Linked DNA regions of Homo sapiens. The protein of the gene in region 3 interacts with the protein of the main gene of each other region in a pairwise test. Each region holds a gene or a part of one and is shown on either strand. Other genes may lie near its edges.

Region 1 (4,242 bases), on a different chromosome or scaffold from region 3:
GCACCTTGGGACCCCCTCCCCTGCTAACAATAAATAACCACCTTTAACTGTAACTTTCCACTGCCTACTCAAGCCCTATAAAGCTGCCCCTCTCCTATCTCCCTTCACTGACTCTCTTTTCGGACTCAACCCACTTGCACCCAAGTGAATAAACAGCCTTGTTCCTCACACAAAGCCTGTTTGGTGGTCTCTTCACACAGACACGCATAACAGATATCATTATCTCTGAAAGGAAAATTAGCAGTGGGAAGAATGGGTGACTAGAATCTAGGAGGAAAAGTACCAAGGCCATTCAACAGCTTAGCACCCCCTGAGCATAGATATGGTAGGATAAGACCATAGGTCTGAGTCAGGGGACAGACAACGGTTAAGTACACAATATCTTCCTACATGTTTTCTGTTACTTAATTAGAAGACACCAATTTTTAAAAAAATTTTATCTTACCAGGAGCTATTTTGTTAGCTAAGAGTTCTATCCAAATTTTGGCACTAGGATGCCTGACCTATCTGCTACTCATAGTTTTTCTGGCTTCCAGAAATTTTACTGGGATGCTAGGTGAAGCTGGTAAGGGCTGTCGGCCAGATGTCTTTCTGAACCAGATGCATTTAAAGAGACTGTGTAAAAACTATTTTTTTTTTTTTGAGACGGAGTCTTGCTCTGTCGCTAGGCTGGAGCGCAGTGGCGTGATCTTGGCTCACTGTAACCTCTGCCTCCTGGGTTCAAGCGATTCCCCTGCCTCAGCCTCCCAAATAGCTGGGACTACAGGTGCACGCCACCAGGCCTGGCTAACTTTTTTTTGTATTTTAGTAGAGACGGGGTTTCACCATGTTGGCCAGGATGGTCTTGCTCTCCCGACCTCGTGATCCGCCCGCCTCAGCCTCCCAAAGTGCTGGGATTACAGGCGTGAGCCACTGCGCCCGGCCATGGAAAAACTACTTTTAAGGATAATGTATCTATAGTAACTACATAGATTTTTTTTTTTTTTTTGAGATGGAGTCCAGCTCTGTCACCCAGGCTGGAGTGCAGTGGCGCTATCTTGGCTCACCGCAACCTTCGCCTCTCTGGTTCAAGCGATTCTCCTGCCTCAGCCTCCCAAGTAGCTGGGATTACAGGCACTCACCACCACGCCTGGCTAATTTTTGTATTTTTAGTAGAGATGGGGTTTCACCATGTTGGCCAGGCTGGTCTTGAACCCCTGACCTCAAGTGATCAGCCAGGTTTGCCCTCCCAAAGTGCTGGGATTACAAGCATGAGCCACCGTGCCTGGCCCATAGATTATTTCTTAATATCCCTTCAAGCCACAAATTTCCTTTTGAAGTAATAGTTAAGCAAAAGATACTAGCTATATACCTCAGAATTATGCTAATATGGTAGTCACTATGCAAGTGTAGCTAATTAAATGTAAATTAAAAATTCAGTTATCCAGTCACACTAGCCACATTTCAAGGCTCAAAAGCCACATGAGGATAGCAGCTACCACATTAAACAGCATAGACACAGACATTTCCATAATCACAGAGAGTCACACTGGACGACACTTAGAGTACAGAATATAGGATCATTTACCATACTGAACTTCAGTAGAGATGGTCTAGTTTGCGGGCAGTCCAGAATATCTTGTGCTCCAATTTATTTATATTCTGCTAACATTACTACCAAGAGACTTGGCGATTAAGTCACAGACTTAATGGCTGGCAGAAAATAAGTATTCAAATGATTAAGTTCTAAATGAATTGGCGAATGAATGGATGAATAAATGAATGTCCTTGTGGGGATGATAGTGCAGGCAACAGACAAAATCCAAGGGTGTACCAACACAAAAGGACTATTACTAACAGATTATTTTAAAAGACCTAAAGAATAACTATGCATCAAAGCCAAGTTGCCAGCTTATGTTCATGCTACAAAGCCCATCATCAAGTCTAACCAATGGCCTGAAACCCACAGTAGTTATGGACTCTATGAATGGCTATTATCAAGGCCAAAATTAAGGCAATTTATTAGGTCTATATAAACATTTTTTTTTTTTTTGAGACGGAGTTTTGCTCTTGTTGCCCAGGCAGGAGTGCAATGGCGTGATCTCAGCTCACCGCAACCTCTGCCTTCCGGGTTCAAGCGATTCTCCTGCCTCAGCCTCCTGAGTAGCTGTGATTACAAGCATGCGCCACTACGCCTAGCTAATTTTTTTGTATTTTTAGTAGAAACGGGGTTTCTCCAGGTTGGTCAGGCTGATCTCGAACTCCCGACCTCAGGTGATCCACCCGCCTCAGCCTCCCAAAGTGCTGGGATTACAGGCATGAGCCACCACGCCCGGCCTGTATAAACATTTAAGAACAAAAGATATATAACACATTACTGAACACAACTCTCATTCTTTAAGGAAATATTAATACATCTAATACCCTACCAATTATACTTGAGAGGGATACCTAGTATACAAAGACACTTGGCCTAAAAGTTATTAGTTTTTTTTTTTTTTTTTTGCAGAAATATTCCCAACAGTGGGTATTTTTACAAACAGTATCTTTCAGCCTGTCTGTAGGGCCTTTGATACTGTCTACAGTTTTTTTAATTGAATATCTAAAAGTTATTACAAAAATGGAAATATAGGGGAAATGACCTGCAGAAATCAAATAATTTAAATCAAATTAAATTTTACTCTTCTCCCTAAAAATTTGCTTCATTCTTTTAGAGGAAAAAGTACATAGAAAACTGTTGCTGTTCTCTACAAAGATGACGGCTCCTACCTTTTTGATTTTCTTTATCAGATCCTGAAACCTGTTAAAAGAAAATATTTCACTTTTATTCAGCTATTCAGTTATAATTAACAAACCAAAGTAGATTACAGAAACTAAGCCATCTTACCAGTGATTTGTAGAGACTGGAAGTAGGGTTGATTTTAATGAGTTGTAATAGATCCTGCATAGTAAATACCTTAAGAAAAAATAGGTTACTAAGTAGACATATTTTTATATCAGTGTTTAAATGATAAATTAGGATATGTTTCTGAATATGAAATTAAGAAACATCCTTCAGATTAAATAAGATTATAACTATGCTAATAAAGCAAATTTCAAGCTCTTTCTTACACTGTTAAATAAATTACTATAAACATATCAAGGTCAAAAGGATAAAATATCTTTATCATCTAATTAACTTCTAAGTACTTCACATCAAAGATGATATGCCTAAATGTTTAATGCCTTACAGATGACACTGAAATATCTGATGAACCAATGACTACATGACTGAGTTCCTGGGTCATTCAATTACAATTTTTTAAAAAGTATTCATTGTTTAAAAATGTAAATAGATTTTTACTGTCCTTAAAACCGTAATTAAAGTGTACTTAAAATATTGTTTAACAGACATTTTGGGTAGCTATTAAAATATATTTCTACTACAGTATATACCATTCACTATGTCTGCTCTGAGAACACTGATATTTGTTTTCAATTGGTTTTCCTTTAAAGTAAATATTCTGCATGGGCATTTTACATTAGTAGAAACCGTTAAGTTGTATGAATAGGATTAATTCCTGCTATATAATTGTATTATTGACTATTACACAATAAGTAAAAGTATAAAGTGATTAGAAAGTTAGAGAATGATGTATCAAAAATGAATTCCAGGCCAGACACGAGGGCTCATGCTTGTTATCCCAGCTCTTTGGGAGATTGAGGTGGGCAGATCACCTGGGGTCAGGATTCGAGACCAGCCTGGCCAACATGGTGAAACCTCCTCTCTACTAAAAATAAAAAAGTTAGCCAGGTGTAGTGGTGGGCACCTGTAATCCCAGCTACTTGGGAGGCTGAGGCAGGAGAATTGCTTGAACACAGGAGGCAGAGGTTGCAGTGAGCCAAGACTGCGCCATTGCACTCCAGACTGGGTAACAGAGCAAGACTCTGTCTCAAAAACATAAATTAATAAATAAATTCCTAATGCTGACAAATAAAATTTGGTTGCTTATGAAGAAATGCAAATTATTTAAGTTTTCATTCAAATACTGTACTAAGCTTGTGTCACTAAAACTTTGGAATATGAAACTTTTGGATAATTACAGAAAACACAAAGAAAGTAAAAACATATGAACACCACCAAGAGTGAAATTTATTTTATTTTTGAGACAGTCTCGCTCTGTCACCCAGGCTGGAGTGCAGTGGCATGATCTCGGCTCACTGCAACCTTCACTGTAAACTATGGCCTCTGGGTGATAATGACATGTCAGGGTAGGCTTATAG
Region 2 (4,242 bases), on a different chromosome or scaffold from region 3:
CAAAAACCATTTTATTTTAAAGGAAGACAAAGAGTATTAACTGTTAAACACTGAAATTTGACAAGTTATGACTCAAAATGATTAAGTATAACAGTTTTATTTTCTATTAGTGATATTTGTAATCTTTACTTTGCCTTTATGACTTTGCACTCAGTTCTTGGTTTACAACAGTACTATGTAGAAACACAAAGGTTGCCATCACTAGTTATTTTTACCTGCTACAGATATTTTTTACCTGCCATATTTACAATGTTGAGATTCAAGTTTAAATATGTTACTGAGCATTTGCTAAATTACCCAGATTTATTCATTCATTCTTTTAAGAAATAATCGTGTGGCAGGCATTCAGGATAGTGAACAAGGCATACAAAATTCCCTCTCTCATGGAGTTTATAATCTAGAGATAATTAGCAATGCAGATAATTAAGAGTGGAATCAGGGCCGGGCACAACGGCTCATGCCTGTAATCCCAGCACTTCGGCAGGCAGATTACGTGAAGCCAGGAGTTCAAGACCAGCCTGGTCAACATGGTGAAACCCCATCTCTACTAAAAACACAAAAATTAGCCGGATGTGGTGGCACACATCTGTAACCCCGAGCTACTCGGAAGGCTGAGGTAGGAGAATCTCTTGAACCCAGGAGGTGGAGGATGCAGTGAGCCAAGATTGCGCCACTGCACTCCAGCCTGGGCGACAGAGTGAGACCCTGTTTCAAAAAAAAAAAAGAAAAAAGAAAAAAAAAGTGAATCAGGGCAACTTTACATTACATAGTAAGGGCTGACCTCTCCGCTGAAGTGACATTTAAATGAAAGCTGAAATCTGAGGACTCAACCCAAGAGCAGTGAGGGGTAAACAACTCAAAAAAAAAAAAAAGGCAATAGCTGGTGTAAAGCCCATAAGGGAGGACCAGTATAGTCAAGAACAAGGCAAAGCAGTTTGAGGTGAGGTCAGAAGCTTGGCAGGGGTCAGGTCACATAGGGATCTACAAACCCAAGGATGGAGCTCAGATTTTGTTGTAAATAAAATCAGAAGCTGTTGTATGGTTTTTAGCAGGGCTGTGGCATGACCTTTGGTGTGTTATTCCACGACCACTTAGACGCTGAGTGAAGAATGAATGGCATGAATGGCAACAATGGAAGCAGGCAACCCGGCCAGAAGGCTACAATACTTGTCTAGGAGTGATGATGGTGATCTGGACTACAGTGCCAGTAGCAAAGATACATGCTTTGTAGTCTAGTTCTTAGAACTTATTAATGAGTGAAATGTGAGAAATAAAGGGAAGATATTGACTAAAAGTTCTAGATTTTTGGTATATAAAGAAACCAAAAATATACCAAAAATCTTTGGTATATAAAGATTTTTGGTGTTCAAGAAACTGAATGCTATTATATTTACTAAATAAGCTAAAAAAAATCGTAAAAGAATATTTGGTTAACGGACAGGGAATCCACTCTTCTGTCTGTGTTAAGTTTGAGAAGTCTATTAGTGGGCAGTTGAACACAAACCTAGATTTCATGGGGGAACTAAGGGCTTGGTGTAGTGTCATGGGGCACTTAGATGTTTAGAGGTCTAAAACAAGTGAGGTCTTCTAGGAAGTGTGCAGACAAAGCAAAATCTGGTAGTAAATGTGGCAAAGAGAGTAATGATAACTTGATCTTTCAAACTCTGAATACACTAGGGTGGAAAGAATAACAGGAATTCATTTAGTTCATTCTTTTTTAACAGGGACGGGGCAGGGCGGGAACTAGATCTAAAATCTTCAGAAAAGAATAAACTACTACTACTATTAATTGCTAAACAGGACAAATCTTCAATAGCTAAGCACACTCTTGCAGACAGAGGAGTCCAGAGTCCTACCTCAGTCATGGTCATCATTTCATTACGACATTTATCCAATTGATTCTGTAATTCATTTTGACTCTCTACTAGTTGTAAACCATACTGTGCAGCTTTTAGTCGCTCTTCTTCAGCCTCTTTGAGCCTGCATCGAAGATTTGTGATTATATCTGCCTCCATGTTCTTTTCTTTTTTTTAGCCAACTGTAAATAGAGGAAATAAAACTACTTAAGCTTATACAAAAAACTCCATGCAATAATATCAATAACAGAAGAAACATATCTACTCAATACTACTGTCGTATAAAAACATTAAAATTTTCTTCCTGACTAATAAGTAGTCAAATTTGCATTCTTGTTCCAAGAGCAAGAACTGTTCTGACAATTCTGTTACTGATTTGGGATCAAAAATTAAAGAGTGGAATAGAATACATTTAATTTTGCTTCTAAACAGTTCACCATCAGAAAACTGTTCAGTTGTTGTATGCTAAGCTTCCAATATGTTAAGGTAAGTTTGGTCTCATAATTGGACCACTATCCATATAATCAAAATTAAGGGAATAACAAAAAAGTAATCAAGAAACCTCATAGTAGCAGGTATGGTGGCTCATGCTTGTAATCCCAGCAACTGGGGAGGATTACTTGAGGCCAGGAATTCGAGACCAGCCTGAACAACATAGCAAGACTCCATCTCAATCAATCAATCAATAGAAATAAGGTGGGGATGGTGGCAAGCCCCCGTAGTCCTAGCTACTTGGGAGGCTAAGGAAGGAAAATTGATGGAGTTAGAGGCTTCAGTGAGTTATGATCATGGCACTGACAGAGCAAGACACTGTCTTGAGAAATAATAATGATAATAACAATAATACCACCAGAAAAGGAAGGTCTGGGTACTATAAACACATAAAATATAAAAAGGCAGCTGTGAATAAGGCTCATAAGGTAAAGTAAGAAATATCATGTCTGTAATTTTTCACAACAGTGTTAACTTCCTGAATATATTAAATCTGCTTTCCTGGAAAGAGATTCACTAGTATTTTTCTAGTTATTCATAAAAGTATGCAAAAATAGAAACCATATCCATAAGAATTAAAGGATGTTGCTTTCATTCTAGATTTATAAACAAAGACTTAAACATTATATATAGAAACATTCCACTTTAATCAACCTTACTAATTATCCTTTACTATTTGGTCCCAGCCTCCTAAGCGAGACTCAAACTCACCTTTGCCTTCAAAGGGCACCAGGTCATTGCAAGATGTTCCCCCATGTCTCAAGTCAATGTAGTCATTCACTGAACGAGTATTTCTTGAATGCCTTATATACTAGGTTCCATTCTGGGCAGTTCAGATTCATTAGGGAACAAAATGGACGAAAAAAAAGCTCCTCCCTCATGAAACTTACATTCCAGGAGGGGAAGATAAACAGTAAGTAACAGAATATTAATAAATTAGAAAGGGGAGATGAGAAAAAATAGAACAGAATAAGAATCTGGGAAGAAGGGACAGGTGATGTAACCAGGAGGCAGAAGATGAGAGAATCAGCCAGGCAGCTATTTAGAAGAAGAATGTTCCAGCAAGAGGGGAATCCTTAAGGCAGGAAGAAGCCCAGGGAGTGAAATTTGGCTAAGAGATAGTAGAGAGTGGGCAAATCAGGCCATTATAAGGACTTTGGCTCCTACTTTGGGTGACATGGGAAGTCATTCCAAAGTCTGGAGTAGAGGATCTGATATAATTTAAAAGAATCATTTTGGCTGCTATGTTGACTAGTTTAGAAGGGGAACAAGGCTGGAAGCAGAGACCATGTGAAATGGCTCAGACTAGGGTGGCAGCATAGGAGGCTGTGAGAAATGGCCAGATTTTGAAGGTTTTGAAGGTAAGGTCAATATGATTTTCTGAAAGATATAATTTGGGATGTGTGAAAAAGGGAAAAGTAAAAAATGCCTCCAAGTCTTCTGGCCTGAGCACCTAGTAAAATGGAATTGCCATCAGCTGAAGCACTGATGTAAATAATGTTTTGGAAATAAAATCAGGAATTTGAGTTTTGAACATGAACTATGTCAAGTAGGCAATTGGATATATGAGAAGAGGAATCTTGGCTGGATATGCAAATTTGAGAATTATCAGTCTATAGAGGATAAAAGTATTTAAAGAGAAATGGACCAACGACTGAACCCTGTTATGAGGTAGGGAAGAAGACAGCGGAGAATCAGGAGTGACCAGTGAGGTAGAAGGAAAACCAGGAGTATGTGTTGTCCTGGAAGGCAATAAACAGTGTATTAAGGAGGTGGGAGTAATCAATCATGCCAGATGCTGCTGCTAAGGCAATTAAGGTGAGAGCAGAGAACTGGCCATTGAACTTGAATTCCTGGAGGTCTCTGGTGACAAGAACAGTTTTGATATCCAGGT
Region 3 (4,242 bases):
GCCTCCCAAAGTGCTAGGATTACAGGTGTGAGTCACCACGCCCGGCCAGATAATTGCCGGTAAACTTTTCTAAAGTTTACTGGTAGAACAGATTAACAAAATAAATTCTTTTCCTGACATAATGTTGAATCATTTGTGCTCACTGAATTCTCCATGTTGAGTGAATAAATGCCCATTCACGTATTTACCAAAAGATAGTTCTGGTTGGTGGACTGAAAAAGCAGGAAATAAGCCAGTTTATTTCCTTTCTGTGTGTGTATCTCAAAATTCCTTGGTCTACAAAGAAGCATATTAGAAAGTAACTTGAGGATGTACTCCAGCAAACTAATGGAATACAAAGAACAAACAAACAAAGGGATGCTATGAGAGGCAAAAAATTATGGCTCCAACTCCTAAGAGCAATAAAAGAAAGTTCTGGGATGCCAGTTGTGCAATAGGCCTAAAAGATAACCAGCATCTACTGGAGCCGGAAACAAAGGGGACTTGGAGGGAAACAAAGGGGACTCCATTGTATAGATACTGACTGAGAGAATGGAAAACTTGAGGATGTGATAAAAGCATACAATGCAAGAAAAATATTGGCTAATAGAAATGCAATAAATAATAAGAAAATAAAAATGTGTGTGATTTAAAGCAACTAATGAAAATAAAGAGAACTTGATGCTAGGAACATTTTCCTTTGACTTCTGCTGGACACATAACACTGACAATGTCAATGTATAACTGACAAATGGCAGGAGACTGTCTCTACCTGAAGAAAATACTATTTAAAAAAAAAACCCAAAACCACCTATAATCCCAGCACTTTGGGAGGCTGAGATGGGAGGATCACTTGAGGTCAGGAGTTCAAGACCAGCCTGGCCAACATGGCGAAACCTTGTCTCTATGAAAAACACAAAAAAATTAGCCGGGCACGGGGGTGCGTGCCTGTAATCCCAGCTATTCGGGGGGTTGAGGCAGGGGAATCGTTTGAATCTGGGAGGCGGAGGTTGCAGTGAGCTGAGATTGTGCCCCTGTACTCCAGCCTGAGTGACAGAGTGAGACTCCATCTCAAAAAAACAAAACAAAACAAAAAACCACACACACACACACACACAGCCCCAAAACAACAACAAAACAAAAAAATCCTCTGTGACCACAATGTAAGTGGACAGCATAAACTTAAATGATGTAAAGTATAAATTGATAGACAATGGCATGGTTAAGAAGACCATAATCATAGACAGCTTCTGAAATTCGGATGTGCACAAATAATTCAGCCCCCTTATAAAAGGTGAAATACAGAGACAAATGATTAGTGTTTTAAAAGAAATGTTTATGTATCTTTACATTGCACTTTAGGGTAACGGAAAATAAAACACAATAATATTGTATTGGAAAATGTCCTGCCTCTTAGAATTTTAAACCAAGATTTCTTTTCTGTTATTTTCTACATAAGAATTCTTACATTTGATGAGAGAATACAAATAGAAAATTTATTAATAAAATTCCATAAAGGCTTGCTATTAAAGTTGATTATTGTAAAATAAACAACTGATAAACATTAATAATAAAAAATAAGAAGTCCTATGTGTCAGACACTGATATTTTTACATGTATTCTCAAATATTCCACTTTATTTCTACCCTTTCTGCTCTACACCAAAATCCCTTGAAATAGATGTAATTAATTCCAATCATAAATGAGAAAACTGAGGCTTAAAGACATTAAACAGACATCCTTTAATTCATAGAGCTAGTATTTCCTAGATCTCTGACTCCAAAGTCCATTACTCTTTCAACATATGATTATTCATCTTTACTGAACACCTGTCACACGCCGTTTATAGATGCCAGGAGCCCAAAGGTAGGAGAAAAGCAGAAACCTATGCATACAAAATAAAATTCTAAATTTCAGTAAATAATTTCAACTACATCAGACAATAAAAAAGTTAATCTGAAGAGAAACATAATGCCAGGCAAAAATTACAGGTAAACAATTTTTTATTCCCCAAATGGGATTTGTTAACATATGCCCAGTGATGTAGTTAATAAAGTCTAGGGATTTTCTGCTATTCATATATTGTAGAAATATGGACAAGGTAGCAAAAACAACAATTAAAAAATGGCATAACTGCTCTGTCTCAAAAAAAGCCTAATATTTAAAAAACATCCTGAAAAATGTTAAGCAGTGATTGAACAATTTGTACTTTTTCTTTACTATAGTTTCTAGTTTACCCTAGAAAGCTCCTTTTTCTAGCATTCACTTATAAAACATTTCTACCACTTCTACTGTTATTCATATTGCTACCATTATTCATATTTTTCCAATTTTTATACCATTATTCATATTTTTTCCAATTTTTCAGATTGAACGAATGAAAAGTGGCAGATATAGAAAAATTATATAGAAGTGAATAACAAATTAAACTCAAACTATATACCAAAAGACTAAATATTAATTGGTAATTTTAAAATCATCATGAAATCATGAAATGATACAAAAAAAGAAGATAATACATTTCATAGTCATTTTAAGAAGTGTATATGACAATGCAATAAGCTGTTCTATGACAAAAAAAGACTGCTACTGTCAGAGACCTAGATAATACACCACCACCCTTGTGCTTTGGGAAGGAAAACAATAATAAAATTTACAAAGCCACACAAATCTTGATCAATGTTTCACAGATAACACTGCCATGACTTAGTTTCATAAAGTGCTACAAAGTAGAGAAACTATTACTTTATATTGACTTTGAATTTCTATACTTCTGAATAAAGTGCAATTACTTACTTTTTTCTCCGATTTGACTCCACAAAATATTTACGTGCTCGATTTCGACATATTTTTTGTTGCTGCAGTAATATCTGGCGCTCTTCTTCTAAATTTTTCTCCAGATGGATTTTCATATCTCTAATGATAGCATTAAGTTAAGAACAATGGTCTACATCTTTAGTGGATGACTGTCAGTGCTATATGATAAATATAACTACAGCCTCATGCAAATGATGTAATGATAGTTTTTGTGGAATAATTAGTATGTGCCCACATTAGTATATGACTGGCAAACATTTTATGTAAAAAAAATTCGGGGCTGGGTGCGGTGGCTCACACCTGTAATCCATCACTTTAGGAGGCTGAGGCAGAAAGATCACGAGGTCAGTAGGTCAAGACCCGGCTGGCCAACGTGGCAAAACCCCGTCTCTACTAAAAATACAAAAATTAGCTGGACGTGGTGGTGCATGCCTGTATTCCCAGCTACTTGGGAGGCTGAGGCAGGAGAATCGCTTGAACCCGGGAGGCGGAGGTTGCAGTGAGCCAAGGTTGTGCCATTGCACTCCAGTCTGGGTGACAAGAGCAAGACTCCATCTCAAAAAAAAAAAAAAAAATTCTGACTTGGTATTAGAAAGTAAGATATAGCTCACTTTTCCTGGAGAAAAAAAATCTACTTTTAGAAATCATGAGCTCAGGCTGGGCGCGGTGGCTCACACCTGTAATCCCAACACTTTGGGAGGCTGAGGCGGGTGGATCACCTGAGGTCAGGAGTTTGAGACCAGCCTGGCCAACACGGTGAAACCTGTCTCTACTGAAAACACAAAAATTAGGCGGGCGTGGTGGCGGGTACCTGTAATCTCAACTACTCAGGAGGCTGAGGCAGGAGAATCTCTTGAACCTGGGAAGCAGAGGTTGCAGTGAGCCGAGATTGCGCCACTGCATTCCAGCCTGGGCAACAAAAGCGAAACTCCATCTCAAAAAAAAAAAAAAAAAAAAAAAAAGAAATCATGAACTTCAGATAAAGAGGACTGTATATCTTCATTCATTACACAGTTTTTTTTTTTTTTTTTTTGAGACAGAGTCTCACTCTGTTGCCCAGGCTGGAGTGCAGTGGCATGATCTTAGCTCACTGCAACCTCTGCCTCCTGGGTTCAAGTGATTCTTCTGCCTCAGCCTCCCAAGTAGCTGGGACTACAGGCATGTGCCACCACACCTAGTCAATTTTTGTATTGTCAGTAGAGACGGGGTTTCACCATGTTGGTCAGCCTGGTCTCGAACTCCTAACCTCAGGTGATCCACCTGCCTCGGCCTCCCATAGTGGTGTGATTACAGGCGTGAGCCACCGTGCTTGGCCTCATTACACAGATATTTGAGTACTTACTAACAAGTTGCCCTCATAGTCATGAATATAAGAAAATGAAATAAGAAGATTGTATTTTACTAATAGAAAGTAGATGGAGTAAATGTTTCACCAGATCCCTTAAT
Region 4 (4,242 bases), about 24 Mb from region 3:
CAAATGCTTCTTGCTACACTGTCACCACACCCAGGGACCTCTCAGCTACCAGGCTGTCCCAGATAACGCCCCAGGGTTCTGTGACTAGACAGTAAGTGTAAGACACTGGCTTACAGAGACAGGCCAGAATTGAAGCCTGAGCTTTGCAAGAATAAACAGAGTCTCAAGAACTCTTATCTTAGTAAGTCCCTCAGGGCTACAAGACCCCTCTGCATCCCCCAGTTTTCCTCCTTTTATCCTCCATCATGCAAATAGAAAAATAAAGCAGTTCAGTCAAACTTAAATGAACCATGATGCAAAGATCTTAGGGGAAAACAAAATGTTCAGCTATCAGAAGAGGCTGTCTTAAAGCAACTGTCCTGATGGGGGAAGTTTTTTTCAAAATGTACATGCGGAGAACTAATTCCATAGGTCTGTGATAGAGCCTAGGGAAAGGCATTTTGAAAAAAACTCCTTAGATAATTCTACTGAGCTCCCCTGATTAAGAAGCATGAGTGGCTGGGCGCAGTGGCTCACACCTGTAATCCCAGCACTTTGGGAGGCCGAGGCGGGGAGATCACGAGGTGAGGAGTTTGAGACCAGCCTGACCAACATGGTGAAACTCCGTCTCTACTAAAAATACAAAAATTAGCCAGGCGTGGTGGTGTGAACCTGTAATCCCGGCGACTCAGGAGGTTGAGACAGGAGAATCGCTTGAACCCGGGAAGCAGAGATTGCAGTGAACCGAGATCGCACCACTGCACTCCAGCCTGGGCAACAGAGTGAGACTCCATCTCACCAAAAAAAAAAAAAAGAAAAAAAAAATGAACCATGAGAACCAGGGGTTTGGGTTAAACCCAAAAATAGAACAATAGAACAATAAGGCATCTGGGGCCAGGCACGGTGGCTCATGCCCGTAATCCCAACACTTTGGGAGGCCAAGATGGGCAAATCACCTGAGATCAGGAGTTTGAGACCAGCCTGGCCAACATGGTGAAACCCCATCTCTACTAAAAATACAAAAATAATCCAGGAGTGGTGGCATGAACCTGTAATCCCAGCTACTAGGGAGGCTGAGACAGGAGAATTGCTTGAGCCCAGGAGGCGGAGGTTGCAGTGAGCCGAGATGGTACCATTGCACTCCAGCCTGGGCAAAAGAGTGAGACTCTGTCTCAAAAAATAATAACAATAATAATAAGGCACCTGATCATTTTCAATCACTGAAACACCTTAGCACGCCCTAAAGAGACCAGTCAGGACTGGAACCTGGGACACAAGGAGGGATTTGGACCCAGAATTCTGAGGCCCATCTCAAGACTCCCAACACGAAATACCCTCACTCCACTTTCTTTAAGGTCTTGCCTACAGAGAACACAAGCCAAATTCAATTATTTCCTAATGTACACACTGTCTTCCTGGGTTAGACTGTGAGCCCTTTGGGGGAGTGGAGGAGATAGGTGATATCTTCTCCCTTTCTGACCCCCTGTCTGTCACAGTGTGCTGCTCACCACCACTGCTCGGTAAACGTTGATGAGTCCCCTGCAGGGTTGGTAGGGCACTGAAACGGGCAGGGTTGGAGGTTGGAGGCACCCAGTCTTCCACCTGGTTGTTCACCTACCTTGAGAGGCATCTGGTTTCCCTTCTCTATCCGGCTGCTCTGCAGGCTCAGCCCTTTCTCTTTCCGCCTCTTTTTCATCAGTTCTCGCTGCTCCTTCTGCTTGTTCTGAACCTCAATAAGCACCGTGATAAAGGAGTTCTTCACTTCCTTCTCAAACTCCAGCTCGTCCCGGCGGGCCAGCTGCTGCACCAGCTCCTCCGAGAAGTCACGGATGGCACCCTCCACCTGGTCCAGCAGCTCGGTCAGCTCAGACCCAGACATGTGCCTCAGCCCTGCAGGGGAAGACCGTCTCCCGCATAACACCTGCATCCACACCAGAGCCCGCTGGGGAGGCTCCTGGGGCCACCACCAATCAAGATGGGACTGCCCCTCAGAGGAGATCCCTTCCAACTCCTTAAAGATCCAAGAAAGACCTTCACAATTTACGAGCACGCCAGGAAGGCGGGGGCCTGTGTACTGACTGCAGAAGAGAACACCCCTCTCAGGAAACAAAGGAGGAAGAAGAAACAGCCCACGAGGAAGTCTGTGGACTCTATTCTCAAAAATGGGGATGGTTTGTTCCTTCTATTTTCTATCTGTGTCCATAAGATTCCTTGTGTGAAATGGGTCAAGAATTGGGGATGGAAAAGTGATGGGAGGGAGGTTTTTGTCATCCATACTGAAGAGCAATAGAGACGTTGGTGCTTATTCCCAAGAACTGATCAAGATATAGCATACGGCAACAACAACAAAAAAGCCGACCATCTGAGCCCTTCTTTACATCTCTGGTCCTGTGTCGCAGTGCATGTATTCAAAAATATGTGAAACCTGGAAGATTGGTGACTATGCATGAAAAAATAAAGCCTAGCGGGTTAGCATACGGCAGTCAGCTACTTTCAAAGGAAAGAAAAGGGAAGCTGAGATCATGGGAAATATATAACTTTAAGAAGTCTCCTAAGACTTCTTTCATTTAAAATAGATTTGGATATTTTATTCCAAATTTTTCTGTTTACATGTTATATATTTTCATAGTTGAGATTATACTTGTATACAGGTCTAAATCATGCTTTAAAACTTTATACACTTTAGGCCAGGAGCAGTGGCTCATGCCTGTAATCCCAGCATATTGGAAGGCTGCGATGTGCGGATCACCTGAGGTCAGGAGTTCGAAAACAGCCTGGCCAGCATAGTGAAACCCTGCCTCTACTTAAAATACAAAATTAGCCAGGCATGGTGGTGCCTGACTATAATTCCAGCTATTCGGCAGAGTGAGGCAGGAGAACCGCTTGAACCTGAGAGGCGGAGGTTGCAGTGAGCAGAGATCACACCACTGTACTCTAGCCTGGGCAACAACAAGAGCAAAACTCTATCTTAAAATAAAAATAAATAAATAAATAAATAAATAAAAACTTTATACCCTTTAAGCATTTTCTGATTAAAAATTCTTTTAAACACTTAAAAAAAAATTTAGGCCAGGTGCAGTGGCTCACACCTGTAATCCCAGCACTTTGAGAGGCTGAGGTGGGTGGGTCACCTGAGGCCAGGAGTTCGAGACCAGCCTGGCCAACATGGTGAAACTGTTTCTACTTTAAAAAAAAAAAAAAAAAAAAAAAAAAATATATATATATATATATATATGTATATATACACATATATATGTATATATACACATATATGTGTATATATGTATATATATACACATATATATAATTTGAAAAAATAAAATATACTTGGGAAACATCTTTTAAAATGTGTCTCCATCTAATGGTATCTTTTTGCGGCAGGGGAGGAAGAATTAATTGATTGACTGGTTTTTAATTTTTAATTTTTGTGGGTACATAGGGGGTGTATGTGTTTATGGAGCACATGAGATGTTTGGATGCAGACATGCAATGCATAATAATCACATCATGGAGAATGAGGTATCCACTCCCTAAGGCATTTTTCCTTTATGTCACAAACAATCCAATTATACTCTTTTAGTTATTTTCAAATGTACAGCGTCTAATGGTGTCCTTCACTTTCACCTCAGAATCCATTTCCCTCTTCCTCTTTGTTTCTGCTTTGCCCGGATATTTGCTGACTTGGTTGGGCTTTCCCCTTATTCTGCTCTTTGGAGCTGCCCTCTCCCCCTTCTGTTTTTTTGCCATTTCACTCTGCATTTCAGCTGTTTTCACAAGTCTTTTGCTGAACGCGTCTATCTTTGGGACCTTTGTGTGGCTGGGAAGGGCCTGACAAGGGCAGTCGGGAATGCAGCGAGGCAGCCAAGTCCAGTTCAGCACCGAGCAGACTCTCTGCCGGCCACCTCCTGCCGCTGCTATTCAAAGCCAAAGTCTGACTTGCAGGATGCAGGCCTCCAGATTCTGCCTCTGCTTTCACCACTTCTAACCCGCAGTTGACCTTTGAACCCTGACCAACCCACCTTCTCCCTCCCCTGTTTCTAAGTTCCCATCTCCCCATGGGTGGATCAACTCCTAGGATGGGGCCCCTTCTGCAGCGTGGGCATTTGATACCCTACGGCTGGTGAATTGTTCTGCCTTTGCTGTGTTACACTTTTTCATTTCATGCTTCATCCAGCCGTTTCTTGTGCACAGTCATAATTACTATAAACCTGTGTCAGAGAGTTAAGAGGATGGCCTCTGGAGTTAACCTACCTGGCTTCAAAT
Region 5 (4,242 bases), about 24 Mb from region 3:
CCCACACACTTGTTTGATAGTTTGGCAGTTATATAATTCTAGATTGGAAATAAGGTTCTCTCAGAATGTTGAAGGCATCTGTAATTGCTCTAGAGATGTGGTGATTTAAATCCTTCTTACGTGACCGTATTTTGTTTGTTTTCTCCCCTTCTGGAAGCTTTGAGGATATTCTCTATCTCTGGTGTTCTGCAGTTTTATGATGTGTATTAACACCAGGGTATGGGTCTTTTACTCAGCTGTTGTGCTGGCTTCTCACAGACGGTTTTGATTCTGGAAATTCACGTCCTCTAGTTCCGGGATGTTTTCTTGTACTATTTCTGTGATTTTTTGCTCAATCTTTAATTTTTCTTTGATACCTTTTTGTAATATCCATTCTTGTTATGTGGATATGGTGGGCTCAGAGGGCCCGCTGGAGTATTTGAGTTTTCTTCCTCTCTGCACAGGCTCCACTTCCTTCAGGTGATGTGGGCCTTTGCACCTGTGCCTCTGTCTGGATGTGTCTTCCCTCAGATATCCAGCGACTTGCTCCCACACCTCACTTTGGATGAATCCACAAGTCTTTCCTTAAATGTCACCTCAGTGAAGAGAGCACTGGATTGAGAAGTGCAGACCCCCATCTCACTTCCCTGCTTTGTTTCTCTCCAGAAGCATTTCCCACCATCTAGCATCCCACATATTTATTTACTTGTTTCCCTCACCACTAAAATAAACATTCTATGAGGGCAGGGATTTTGGGTTTTTTTTTGTTTACCTCTATAATTCCAGCCTCTGAAACAGTGCCTGGCGATGAATAGATGCTTAATAACTTAAGGAATAAATGAATTATTTTATTGTGGGATTTCTTTGAATGTCTCATGATTCTGACTGTTCATTTCTGTTTTGTTTTTTGTTATTTTAAGTTCCCAGCGTGGGTCTTGTTGGGTGGTGGCCATTACTATAGGGTGGCTGGTATATATGGATTTTGTGTGTATGTTTGTACAAATGTATATGTTTGCTAATATTTCTTTAGCTGACAGTGCATTGGTTGCTGGGACAAGGATGGAGGCTTGGAGAACCTTTTAGTATGCATCTTTTGACATAATCTGTATTTTCAGTTCTTCATTGCTCCTGCTGATGTATTTTACTCCAGACCCATTTCAGATTTCGGTTCATTTTTCTTTAAACCTCTGGATTTGGGGGTGGAGAAAATAGATGAAAATAGGAGGTGAGGAAGAGAATTTGCGCATTAGTTAAATAGACTTTATGCCAATCCGTATTTTCAGATCTGCATTTAAAGCTTGCTTTCCATCTCCAAAAATTCATTGAAAAATTGAATGCTTATCTCCTGCACCTCACATTCTTGGTTTTATACCTTGAAAAAAGAAAAACTCCTCTGTTGCCATTTTAATAGCGTACTTTGAAAAAGATTAAGAAGTAAACACGTAAGGACAGAAGTTATCATGTTTTATATTCTTAGTGTCATGGAATGCAGCACAGGAATATCACATAAGGAAAAGCACAGATTTCTTGTTTTCCTCGTTTATTTTGGAAGCTTATCCTTCAGCTCTTGTTTATCTTTTTTTTTTTTTTTTTTTTTTTTTTTTTTTTTTTTTTTTGAGAGTCTCTCTCTGTTGCCCAGACTGGAGTGGGCATGATCATGACTCACTGCAGCCTCGACCTCCTGGGTTCAAGCAATCCTCCCACCTCAGCCTCCCAAGTAGCTGGGACCATAGGCATATGCCACCACATCTGGCTAAGTTTTTTATTTTTGTAGAGACAGGGTCTCCCTATTGTTTATATGCCTTAAGAGTCAAATTAACAGAGTACATAAGAAACACTCTCTTTTTAGCTCTCTTGCTAAGGAGCAGGTTTGAGATCTGTTGCCAGAACTTAGTACTTCGCAGTTTTATGGATTCCTCAGGAGTCTCGTCCATGGGGCTGGGGCGTGGCTACCCTCTGCTGACTCTTCCTAGGTTCCTGCTCTTCCCCAGCACCTCCCTACCCCCAGCCACTAGAAATAGACTGCTTCTTTCTTTCTTCTACTGCAGAAAACATGCACTACTGTACTTATTAAAATTAACTTAAAAAAAAAAAAAAAGCAGCTCGAGCTGCTTGAGTTTTTTTTTTAAGTTAATTTTAATAAGACATTGAAGGAAGAATTTTTTTTAAAGGGGGGGCTTATATGTATGGAGATTTATGGTGTGAAAGCAGGGGCAAACTCTAATGAATGAAGTTTTTAGAATTGATATGAACATGAACCCAAGATACTCAGACTTATTCCGAGAGTTCCTCTTAAAAACTGCTTTTCTCCACATAAATCCGAATGTCAGCAGTGGTTAGCTCCACGTTGGAGGAAGGGGGGCTTCATTTTGCTCTTTCTGCATATTTCCTGCAGTGATCTGTTACTTTCAAATCTGGGGGAAAGGTGCTCTCTTTTTCTGAATGAAGTCTCCACCTGCCTCCCTTGGGCCCAGGCTGCCCAGCTTTCTGGCTGCTCCCTGAGAGTCCTCCTTGGTCTTCCACTGACCTCCTTCACTTCCTTATGAAAGTATGTTTTTAGTCTCCCTAACCTGCTTTCTGTTTTCTCTCTCTCTCTTTTTTTTTTAATACCCTCAATTGTTTTCACTGGCCACTTTTTTTTTAAGACTGATGCTTGGCTGGGCTTGGTGGCCCATGCCTGTAATCCCAACACTTTGGGAGGCCAGGGCAAGAGGATTGCTTGACAAGGCCAGGAGTTCAAGATCAGCCTGGTCAACATAGCAAGAGCCCATCTCTACAACAAAATTTAAAAATTAGCCAGGTGTGGTGGTGCGCACCTGTAGTCCCAGCTGCTTAGGAGGCTGAGATAGGAGGATCCCTTGAGCCCCAGAGTTTGATGCTGCAGTGAACCATGATCTTGCCGTCCTGGGGAACAGAGCAAGACTGTCTCAAACAAAAAAGACTGATGCTACCTGCTTGGCAAAACCATGTTTTTAGAGCTATTTCTCCTAAGAAACCTGGTCTTTGTAGTTGTTCTGATGGCTTCTGTGACAAATAATGCCTTTTTTTTTTTAAGAGCTTTCAGATTCTTATTTCAGATCTAAACAGTGCTTTTCAGCTCTCAGTTCATCTTCAGATCAAAGAGAATAGTAGGCCGGGCGCAGTGGCTCATGCCTGTAATCCCACCACTTTGAGAGGCCAAGGCATGTGGATCGCTTGAGGCCAGGAGTTTGAAACCAGCCTGGCCAACATAGTGAAACCCTGTCTTTACTAAAAATACAAAAATTAGCCAAACATGGTGGCGTGGGCCTGTAATCCCAGCTACTTGGGAGCCTGAGGCAGGAGAATAGCTTGAACCCGGGAGGCAGAGGCTGCAGTGAGCTGAGATCAAGCCACTGCACTCCAGCCTGGGTGACAGAGTAAGACTCCATCTCAAAGAAAAACAATATTAATTTTTGGCTAATTTTTATTAGGAAAAAGAGAATATCCTGAAAAGAATATCATGCTAGTTTAAGGTTACAGATTTACTTTCTTCCCTGGGTTCCCTTTGGTTCATATTCTCTTGTTTAGAAATGATCCAAATACATTATTCTGAAGTATATGACAGTTTTTCCAAAATCAGTAAATACATATGTTGGTGCTTAAAACAGAAAGAAAGAAATAATGGCCTATAAATATTATCACATAGCTTATTTCTACTATTCAGAGATCTGTATAACTTAGGATAAGGAGCAGGTTGTTGAACGGTTTTTTGGTTTTTAAGTTTGAAGTACAGTCTGAAAGTACCTTTCAATATTGAAGGGCTGCCTGACTGAAACTTACATGGCTATCTCCTGGGCCTGAAGCACCACCGAGATCTGAACTGAAGGTAGCGTTTTGGGAGTCCTTAGCGTTTAGTTGGTATTTTAATATCTAGGGGTGAATGGGGTGGGAAGGGAAGGGAGTATGTAAAGGGAATAGACTGGAGAGCCCTGCGGATCCTCAGCATTTAGGAAACAGGGAAGACCTCCCACTAGAGGGGAGGGAGGAAAACCAGGAAAAGGCAAGATGGACTTCAGTGTTGGGTGTTTCAGGAGGCAGAGGAGGATAAACACCAACAATTTCATTGAATTTTGCCATAAGGGTATTTATCTCCCATAAAGCTTTCCTTGATTTTCCTCAAGCAGAAGTGCTCATCTCCTTGGTACCTCATCCAGGCATGTGAAACTTGGCACAAACATGTTGTAAAGGTTTGTTTATAGTTCTGTTTCTCCAAAGGTGTAGACTTGTTAAGAGTGTGGCCCA
Region 6 (4,242 bases), on a different chromosome or scaffold from region 3:
AAAAATACAAAAATTAGCTGGCTTTCAAAGGATTTCAATTATGTAATGTTCTTTGACCACAACAGAAGTCAACTAAAAAATTAAAATTAGAAAGGTATCTGAAAAATCCCAAATTATTTGGAAATTGAGACACATACTTCTACATAAGTTATAGGGCAAAGAAGTAGCATGAAAAAAAAAATTCTAGGTCAGGTGCGGTGGCTCACGCCTGTAATCCCAGTATGTTGGGAGGCCAAGGCAGGCAGATCACCTGAGGTCAGGAGTTCAAGACCAGCCTGGCCAACATGGTGAAACCCTGTCTCTACTAAAAATACAAAAAAAAATTAGCCAGGCATGGTGATACGTGCCTGTAATCCCAGCTACCCAGGAGGCTGAGGCAAGAGAATTGCTTGAACCTGGGAGGTGGAGGTTGCAGTGAGCCAAGATCACACCACTGCACTCAAGCCTGGGCAACAGAGTGAGGCTCCGTCTCACCAAAAAAAAAAAAAAAAAAAAAAAAATTCTATTCCAGCACTTTGGGAGGCCAACGTGGGTGGATCACTTGAGCTCAGGAGTTTAAGACCACCCTGGGCAACATGGTGAAACTCCATCTCTACCAAAAATATAAAAAATTAGCCAGGCATGGTGGCATGCACTTGTGGTCCCAGCTACTTGGGAGGCCGAAGTGGGAGGATCTCTTGAGCCCAGGAGGTGGAGGCTGCAGTGAGCCAGGATCATGCCACTACACTCCAGCCTGGGTGACAGAGTGAGACCTCATCTCAAAAAACAAGAAAAACATTCTAAAATATTTTAAATAGGTAAACGAAATAAAAATTTAAAACAATATCAAAATTATATCAAAATCATAATATATCAAAATTTGTGGAGTGCAACAAAGATAATAATTAGAACAAGGAAGATATAAAAATCAATTATGCAAGCTACTTCCACCTTAAAAAGCTAGAATAGTATAGGCAAAGTAAACCTGAGTAGAAAACAGGAAATAGAGAGTAGAAACAAATGCAATAGCAAACAAAAAAATAGAGAAAACAATAAAAATAATGAAACTAAAAGCTAGTTCTCTAAAAAGATCAAGACGGCCAGACGCAGTGGCTCACGCCTGTAATCTCAACACACGGAGAGGTTGAGGCAGGCGGACTGCTTGAGCCCAGATGTTTGAGACCAGCCTGGGCAACATGATGAAACCCTGTCTCTACAAAAAATTAGCCAGGCATAGTGGCGCATGTCTGTGGTCCCAGCTACTCGGGAGCTGAGGTGGGAGAATCACTTGAGCCTGGGGACAGGGAGGTGGAGGCTGCAGTGAGCCATGTGCATGCCACTGCACTCCAGCCTAGGTGACACAGCTAGACCCTGCCCTCAGGGAAAAAAAAAAAAGGATCAAGACAAAATGAGAGAAACATAAATTACCAGTATCAGGACTGAAAGAGGGGTCATCATAACAGACACATCAGAACCATAATAATGCAAAATTATTAACAACCTGATGTCAAAAAAATCTGACAACTTACATGAAACAAATTTCTTGAAAGACACAGATTTTTTCCAAAACTGACTCGAGAAGAAATAGAAAGCCTGAATACTTCCATAACTTTAAAGGAACTGAATGCAACATCAAACTGTACACTTAGAATAACATTTTATTGTATGTAAATTATTCCTTAATAAAGTTAATTTAAAAGGTTAGAAAAACAACAGGACTAAACTATAATGTATAGTGTCTAGGAATGCACTATAAAACTATTAAAGAAACAAGGAAATAAACACTATAGAAATCTGGATCATGTTTATTTGGGGGCAGGAGGAGTTTATGATTTTAACAGGGCATATGGAAGGCCTTCCAGCAGCAGTTAATCACTGACTAGGTGCTACTTACAAAGATCTTCACTTTACGGAAATTAATTAAACCATGTTTGTTCTGTGCGGTTTTCTGTATCTGTGCACTACTTTACAATACGAGAATGTTGGGATTTTTTTTTTTTTTTTGAGACGGAGTTTTGCTCTGTCACCCAGGCTGGGGTGCAGTGGTGTGATCTTGACTCACTGCAACCTCCACTTCCCGGGTTCAAACAATCTCCCTGCGTCAGCCTCCCGAGTAGCTGGGATTACAGGCAGCTGCCAACTACTCAGCTAAGTATTTTGCATTTTTGGTAGAGACGGGGTTTCACCATATTGGTCAGGCTGGTCTTGAACTCCTGACCTCAGGTGATTAACCTGCCTTGGCCTCCCAAAGTGCTGCGATTACAGGCATGAGCCACCTCGCCCGGCCAAAAGGCTAAGCACTAGCTAAAAAACTGAAAATTGGGGCTGGGCACAGTGGCTCACGCCTGTAATCCCAGCACTTTGGGAGGCCAAGGCAGGTGGATCACGAGGTCAGGAGATCAAGACTATCCTGACTAACAAGGTGAAACCTCATCTCTACAAAAAATAAAAAAAAATTGGCTGGGTGTGGTGGCATGCACCTGTAGTCCCAGCTACTTGGGAGGCTCAGGCAGGAGAACTGCTTGAACCTGGGAGGCAGAGGTTGCAGTGAGCTGAGATCGCGCCACCACACTCCAGCCTGAGGGACAGAGCAAGACTCCATCTCAAAAAAAAAAAAAAAAAAAAACTGAAAATTGGGTCGGGTGTGATGGCTCATGCCTGTAATCCCAGCACTTTGGGAGGCCGAGGCAGGTGGATCACCTGAGGTCAGGAGTTCGAGACCAGCCTGGCTAACATGGTGAAATCCCATCTCTACTAAAAATACAAAAACTTAGCCGGGCATGGTGGTGCGCACTTGTAGTTGCAGCTATCCAGGAGGGTGAGGCAGGAGAATCGCTTGAACCTGGGAGGCAGAGGTTGCAGTGAGCCGAGATGGCGCCATTGCACTCCAGCTTGGGCAACAAGAGCGAAACCCCATCTCAAAAAAAAAAAAAAAGAAAATTGTCCCTTTTTTGTCAAGAAGAACTCTTTTTTTCTCTTTATTTTTTTTTTTTGAGACAGAGTCTCATGCTGTGGCCCAGGCTGGAATGTAGTGGTGCGATCGTGGCTCATGATCCTCCCAGCTCAGCTTTCCCTAGTAGCTGGGACTACAGCCCACACCACCACCCTCAGCTAATTTTTTCTATTTTTTGTAGAGATGGGGGACTCACTTGGTTGCCCAGACTGGTCTCAGATTCCTGGGCTCAAGTGATCCTCCCGCCTTGGCCTCCCAAAGTGCGGGAATTATAGGCATGAGCTACCGTGCCCAAAACTTACACTCTTTGACCCTCCCTCTGTGAGATCATCTCCACAGAGGCTTCGTGGCATTTCAGCATTTTCTCTTTAGTCTAAATGTCACTCCTCTGAGGTAATGCTACGATCTCTTTGGAGGGTATACAACACCTTTGGCAGGGAGGGTGTCAGTGGGAGAATGCTTTAAATAAAGTATCTCAAAAAACTTCAAGTTAAATGACATGTCTATTTAATAAATGTGGCCACATAATTAACAATGAATATATGCACACTATATGTTGACACATAAAATAACTGACAGATATACAGAAATCTAGCTACTTAAAGAGTGGTCTACATTGGCCTCTGTCAACAACACGTTGCTCACCATCCTCCTGTCCCTAGTGGGGCAGCACACACTGTGGCTAAGAGGACAGGCACTGGAGTCAGACTCCAGGTGCAGCCCAGCCGCACCACAGCAGCCCTAAAGCCTGGGCAGGTCCCTGCGACACTGAAAATGCCCCTGACAACGGCACCCCCTCAAAGGCTGCGGTGAGGACAGGCTGACGACAGGCGCGCAGCGTAAGAATCAGAATACCACCCGGCACACGGGGTGCACTTCACTCGGGTCAGCTTCCATCAGTGTTCCTACATCCGGGATACAGGCTATGGGTATTCGTTCTTTTGGGAAAAAGAGGGGAAAGCCTCTTACCCTCCTTTGTGCTTCTTTTTCTTTGGTGTGTCTTCCTCTGATGTCCTCCTGCCTCGGCCCCGGGACCCTCTTTTTTCTTTCTGACCCCGGCCTTCTGAAAAATAATCAAGATGCAAATTATTTTTATAGAATTCTCTAAAGCAAGGCAAGTTTTGTGTTTTGTTTTTAAAAAGGGGTCTCGCTCTGTCTCCCAGGCTGGCTGGAGTGCAGCGGAGCAATCATAGCTCACCGCAGCCTTGACCTCCCGGGCTCAAGCAATCCACCCACCTCAGCCTCCCGAGTAGCTGGGACCACAGGTGTGCACCACCACACCTGGCTAATTTTTAAATTTTTTGTTGAGA
Region 7 (4,242 bases), on a different chromosome or scaffold from region 3:
AGTATTTTGTTAGTTGATATGGGTGCTGGTTCCATGGCTGTGTTCGCTTTGTGAAAACGTGTTGTGTTTTTATGCTTTGGGTACTTCTCTGCATTAAAAATTAAAAATATTAACTTTTCAATATAAAATGCACAGTCTGCAGCTTATGATGGTTCAATTTAAATTCTTTTCAACTTTACGACGGTGCAAAAGCAAGCATTCAGTAAAAACTCTACTTTGAACTTTGAATTTTGCTCTTTTCCTGGGCTATCGATTTGCAGTATGATAACTCTTGATGCTGGGCAGCCATACCATCAAGAGAGTAAACAACCAATGCTCTAAAGTGTGCTGTGTTGCCAGCATCTTTTGGATGCAGGTATTCGATAAATTATATGAGATATTCAACACTTTATAAATATTTTATGTTTGATGGTTTTATGTTTGATGATTTTGCCTAATTGCAGGCTAATGGAAGTTTTCTGAGCACATTTAAAGCAGGCTAGGCTAAGCTATGATGCTCTGTAGGTTGGGTTTATTAAATGCATTTTCCACTTATGATATTTTCAGCTTACGGTGGGTTTATTGGATGTAACCCCATTGTAAGTGCAAAAGCATTTGTACTTAAAATATACTGGAAATAGACTGGATTAACTGCTAAACAGATGACAATCATTTGAAAACAAAACACAAATTGTATGTTTCTGAAATTTTAAGAAGGCGAATTGGTTACAGGGTTTGCCAAAGGGGGTGATTGAGAATATTATCTGGCTATTTAAACCACCAAACTAATTTGCCCTTTATAAATAACCTCCATAGTTTTTTTTCAATGCATAATATGCATTTTAGATTGCTTATATCTACCTACTGTGTTCTGTCTACTACTAAACTAATTATCTGAAGAATATGGACTGCATCTTACTTTCCAGCTCCCACACTGTTCAGCAGAAAAATATAAAAGTACCAACACTGATTCAAGAAGAAATATAAAACCAAAAAACCAATTACCATTAAAGAAATCAAACTAGTAATGAAAAATCTACCCCTGTTAAAGACACCAGGCTCAAATGTTTTAAAGAAACCGCTAGTCCCTACCAAATGGTTTCAGAGATTAGAAAAACAGGTTAGTTACCCAACTCATTTTATGAGGTCAGAATATCCTTGAAACCAAAAGCCAATAATGATACTATAAGAGTAGAAAATTTATAGGCCAATCTCATTTATGAACACACATACAAAAATCATTCATTAGCTAATTCTACAGTACATATAAAAATCCATAGAGAACAAGTAGGTTTTATCTTAGGAATGCTAGGATGGTTAAACATTAAAAAAAAAAAAATTTGTCAATAGCACCATATTCACCAGATTAAGAGGAAAAAATTCTATGAACATTTCAATAGATGTAACAGATGCAGAAAAACCATTCAATAAAATTCAACATTTATGACTTTTTTAAAAATTAGCAAACTAGTAATAGAAGAGAACTTTATAATGAAAAAAAGGTTTCTGAAAAACCTACAGCAAACATCATGCTTACTGATAAAATGTTAAAATGCATTCCCATGAAAGACAGGAACTATGTCTTCTGTCAGTAAAAACTTCAGGCTTAGCATGAATGAAATATTTCAAGGCCAAGAGACAGACTCCAAGGCCCAAATGTCAGCTGTCCCCAAAAGAAGGTAAAATACATCTGGGCTTCCCTCAAGTGTCTGTACTGTTCATTGCAAACTTTTTCTGGTGGGAAATATTTAGTATGTAATACTAAGTGGACACAGGAAAAAAAGCAGGACACAGAATGATATCTATGCTCTGATTAGAGCTATATTAATTTTTTTTAAATATATGGACAAGGACTGCAAACAAGCATGGAAAACTGGATACATAAAAACTTGTGGAAACGTGGGTACAATTTCCTTTTTCCTTGTTATTTTAACATTAGCAGAATATTTTAAAAGCAAGCCCATGACAAAGTCTGTTTAGGTGTTTTGATTTATATCTTAAGCAGGACAGCTTTCTGCTTTATAACAGCAGTCTGCTGTAAACAAAAATGTTTAGGGGAATTTTCCTAATTACCTTAAAGTGACTTGGAAAGTGGGAATATAAAGAAAAGAATAGGAGGAAAAGGAGGGTAGATATAGTTATCGTTTACTCTGATGATAGCTAGGAGAAATAATTACCTCCTCTAGCTTGGTAAATTCTTTACGAAATTCTTCTTTTAGGCCAGCATAGTCTTCTTTATTTTGGCTTCTAATAAAGCTTCCTACCAAGGATGGCACCTAGACAGAGAATAATTTCTTAGTTTATCAGTTTATGGCTAACTGTATCGGCCCCCTCACATAAAAATATGGTAGAACCCTTACAGTCCTGGTGTCAAGGTGTTCTAGAAACACCAAGGGTGCATCAAGTTCCTGCGCTCACAGAGGTAATGGACTGGTCTTAGGAACAGTTTTGTGGCCTAAAATGCTGGCTTGGTCAGGATTTTATAAATTACAAATAACAGAAGCTACCCTGGCACGTTTAAGAAACAACTTTCTTTCTTTTTTGAAATGGAGTCATGCTCTATCACCCAGGCTGGAATGCAGTGGCACGATCTCAGCTCACTGCAACCTCCACTGCCCGGGCTCAAGCAATTCTCCTGTCTCCGCCTCCTTAGTAGCTGAGATTATGGGCGTGCGCCACCACGCCAGGCTAATTTTTGTATTTTTAGTAGAGATGGGGATTCACCATATTGGCCAGGCTGGTCTGAAAACTCCTGACCTCAGGTGATCCATCTGCCTCAGCCTCCCAAAGTGCTGGGATTACAGGCTTGAGCCACCACGCCCGGCCAACACAACTTTCTTTAAAGGAGACTGAGTGGCTCATAGAATTATTGGGAGGCGGAACAAACAGGCTTGGAATTAAGACAGAACATCCCAAATTCATGCTGAGAAATGGCCTAATGGGAAGCACTCACTGCTGCCAGTCCAAGCTGAGCACCAGATGCTTCAGTTTGTGAGGCTGCCAGAAAGTAGAGTCTGAGATAACTGCTAACACCACTGGCACTGATGCCATTTCTACTCTGGAATTTTATCTTGTAACCCACACTGCTGAAACCCAGAAGCTCTGCCGCTGCTCTCACCAGGAAAACCAGTGGAGAGCTGAATATCTTAAGCAGATATCCCACCAAGCCTGTTTCCTTACCTTGCTCGTTTCTGATTTGAACTCTATGTGTGTGTCTGACAGGAAGAGCCTAGGTCACAAAACTTGGCCCCAACTGCAAAGAGCTAGGGAAGAAAATTTTTCTGATTTCTTTGTTGGGGAGGACACCAGGAGACTGTTCAAAAGGGACCGACTACCTAAAGACTTGATGGGTGTAGCATCAGATGCTTTAATGCTCGTGATGGTGTTTATGTGTTTTAATACTTTGGTCTTTGGTATCATTTTATTGCAAGACGCAGAAGTCCACTCATCCTAGTTTAAGTAAACAGGCACTTGTAAAAATATAGAATCCCATGAAATCCCATCCACATCAGTTCAGCCTGCCTTCACTGGGACTGAAGGCTTTCAGGCAGCCCTTTCATCCACATTTCCACCTGGGTCTGCCTGGTCTTTCGTCTGTTTTTCCTCACATTTCTGCTCCATATTACTTTGCATACTTCAGTCCCTTTGCAATGTTTTTAATTCTTGCTCCTCTAAAAATTTATTTCTTAAGTGGCTTTGGTTTTTCTAGCCTCTAATTAACATTATTTGAGCCCCAACGCTTAGTTGTCTTTACTGTCCTAACCTTTACTGTCTTAGTTCTGTGTCTCATTTCCAAGTTCCCAGGAGAGAAGATAACTGGCCCAGGTGTGTGGGGTGGGGTACATTTCTGTTCTGATGGGCTGTGGCCAGGAGAGCAGGGTCATATGTACATAAAGCCACCTCTCCTTTAAAACCCAAGCAGGGAAGTAAAGGTGGGCATCTTCAGCATTACTTTTAAATCTCATTTTCTTTCTAGATAGTACAATGAATCTCTTGTGACTACTTTTTAAAGTAGTAGCTTTATGCATGAAAGTAAAGCTTCATGTCTAAAAGCTTTACTTTTAAAGCTCATTTTCTCTGACGTGTCCTACAAGTCCTTTCACGATCCAGTTCCTGTTTACCTCTCCAAAGTTACCCCTTTTATCTCTTCTCCTGACACTTTATATTCCAGCCATACTAAAAAAAGTTTTCCAGAACTGGCACCAGACCAAAGAGATTTTTCTTTAAGAACCACTTAGGCTTATTTTTTTTGGTTGGTATTGA

What was found.
Region 1: the proteins of CEP126 (region 3) and OFD1 interact in a two-hybrid assay, tested with the Homo sapiens proteins (one large-scale study listed by BioGRID and IntAct).
Region 2: the proteins of CEP126 (region 3) and SPDL1 interact in a two-hybrid assay, tested with the Homo sapiens proteins (one large-scale study listed by BioGRID and IntAct).
Region 4: the proteins of CEP126 (region 3) and FEZ1 interact in a two-hybrid assay, tested with the Homo sapiens proteins (one large-scale study listed by IntAct).
Region 5: the proteins of CEP126 (region 3) and FAM118B interact in a two-hybrid assay, tested with the Homo sapiens proteins (one large-scale study listed by BioGRID and IntAct).
Region 6: the proteins of CEP126 (region 3) and ING5 interact in a two-hybrid assay, tested with the Homo sapiens proteins (one large-scale study listed by IntAct).
Region 7: the proteins of CEP126 (region 3) and GSTO1 interact in a two-hybrid assay, tested with the Homo sapiens proteins (one large-scale study listed by BioGRID and IntAct).

What each region holds. Positions count from the first base shown.
Region 1 is NC_000023.11:13,737,539-13,741,780, reverse strand, and holds part of OFD1 (centriole and centriolar satellite protein OFD1), read right to left. Parts: intron 2,936-4,242; coding exon 2,867-2,935; intron 2,780-2,866; coding exon 2,749-2,779; intron 2,738-2,748; exon of another isoform or gene 1,568-2,737; intron 1-1,567. UniProt on the Homo sapiens protein: Component of the centrioles controlling mother and daughter centrioles length. Recruits to the centriole IFT88 and centriole distal appendage-specific proteins including CEP164. Involved in the biogenesis of the cilium, a centriole-associated function.
Region 2 is NC_000005.10:169,586,190-169,590,431, reverse strand, and holds part of SPDL1 (protein Spindly), read right to left. Parts: intron 3,234-4,242; exon of another isoform or gene 3,060-3,233; intron 2,060-3,059; exon of another isoform or gene 2,039-2,059; 5' UTR 2,016-2,038; coding exon 1,857-2,015; intron 1,834-1,856; exon of another isoform or gene 1-1,833. UniProt on the Homo sapiens protein: Required for the localization of dynein and dynactin to the mitotic kintochore.
Region 3 is NC_000011.10:101,921,294-101,925,535, reverse strand, and holds part of CEP126 (centrosomal protein of 126 kDa), read right to left. Parts: intron 2,896-4,242; coding exon 2,776-2,895; intron 1-2,775. UniProt on the Homo sapiens protein: Participates in cytokinesis. Necessary for microtubules and mitotic spindle organization. Involved in primary cilium formation.
Region 4 is NC_000011.10:125,454,238-125,458,479, forward strand, and holds part of FEZ1 (fasciculation and elongation protein zeta-1), read right to left. Parts: intron 1,870-4,242; coding exon 1,598-1,869; intron 1-1,597. UniProt on the Homo sapiens protein: May be involved in axonal outgrowth as component of the network of molecules that regulate cellular morphology and axon guidance machinery.
Region 5 is NC_000011.10:126,217,795-126,222,036, forward strand, and holds part of FAM118B (protein FAM118B), read left to right. Parts: intron 1-4,242. UniProt on the Homo sapiens protein: May play a role in Cajal bodies formation.
Region 6 is NC_000002.12:241,711,731-241,715,972, reverse strand, and holds part of ING5 (inhibitor of growth protein 5), read right to left. Parts: intron 3,996-4,242; coding exon 3,902-3,995; intron 1-3,901. UniProt on the Homo sapiens protein: Component of the HBO1 complex, which specifically mediates acetylation of histone H3 at 'Lys-14' (H3K14ac) and, to a lower extent, acetylation of histone H4. Component of the MOZ/MORF complex which has a histone H3 acetyltransferase activity.
Region 7 is NC_000010.11:104,260,992-104,265,233, reverse strand, and holds part of GSTO1 (glutathione S-transferase omega-1), read right to left. Parts: intron 2,256-4,242; coding exon 2,157-2,255; intron 1-2,156. UniProt on the Homo sapiens protein: Exhibits glutathione-dependent thiol transferase and dehydroascorbate reductase activities. Has S-(phenacyl)glutathione reductase activity. Also has glutathione S-transferase activity.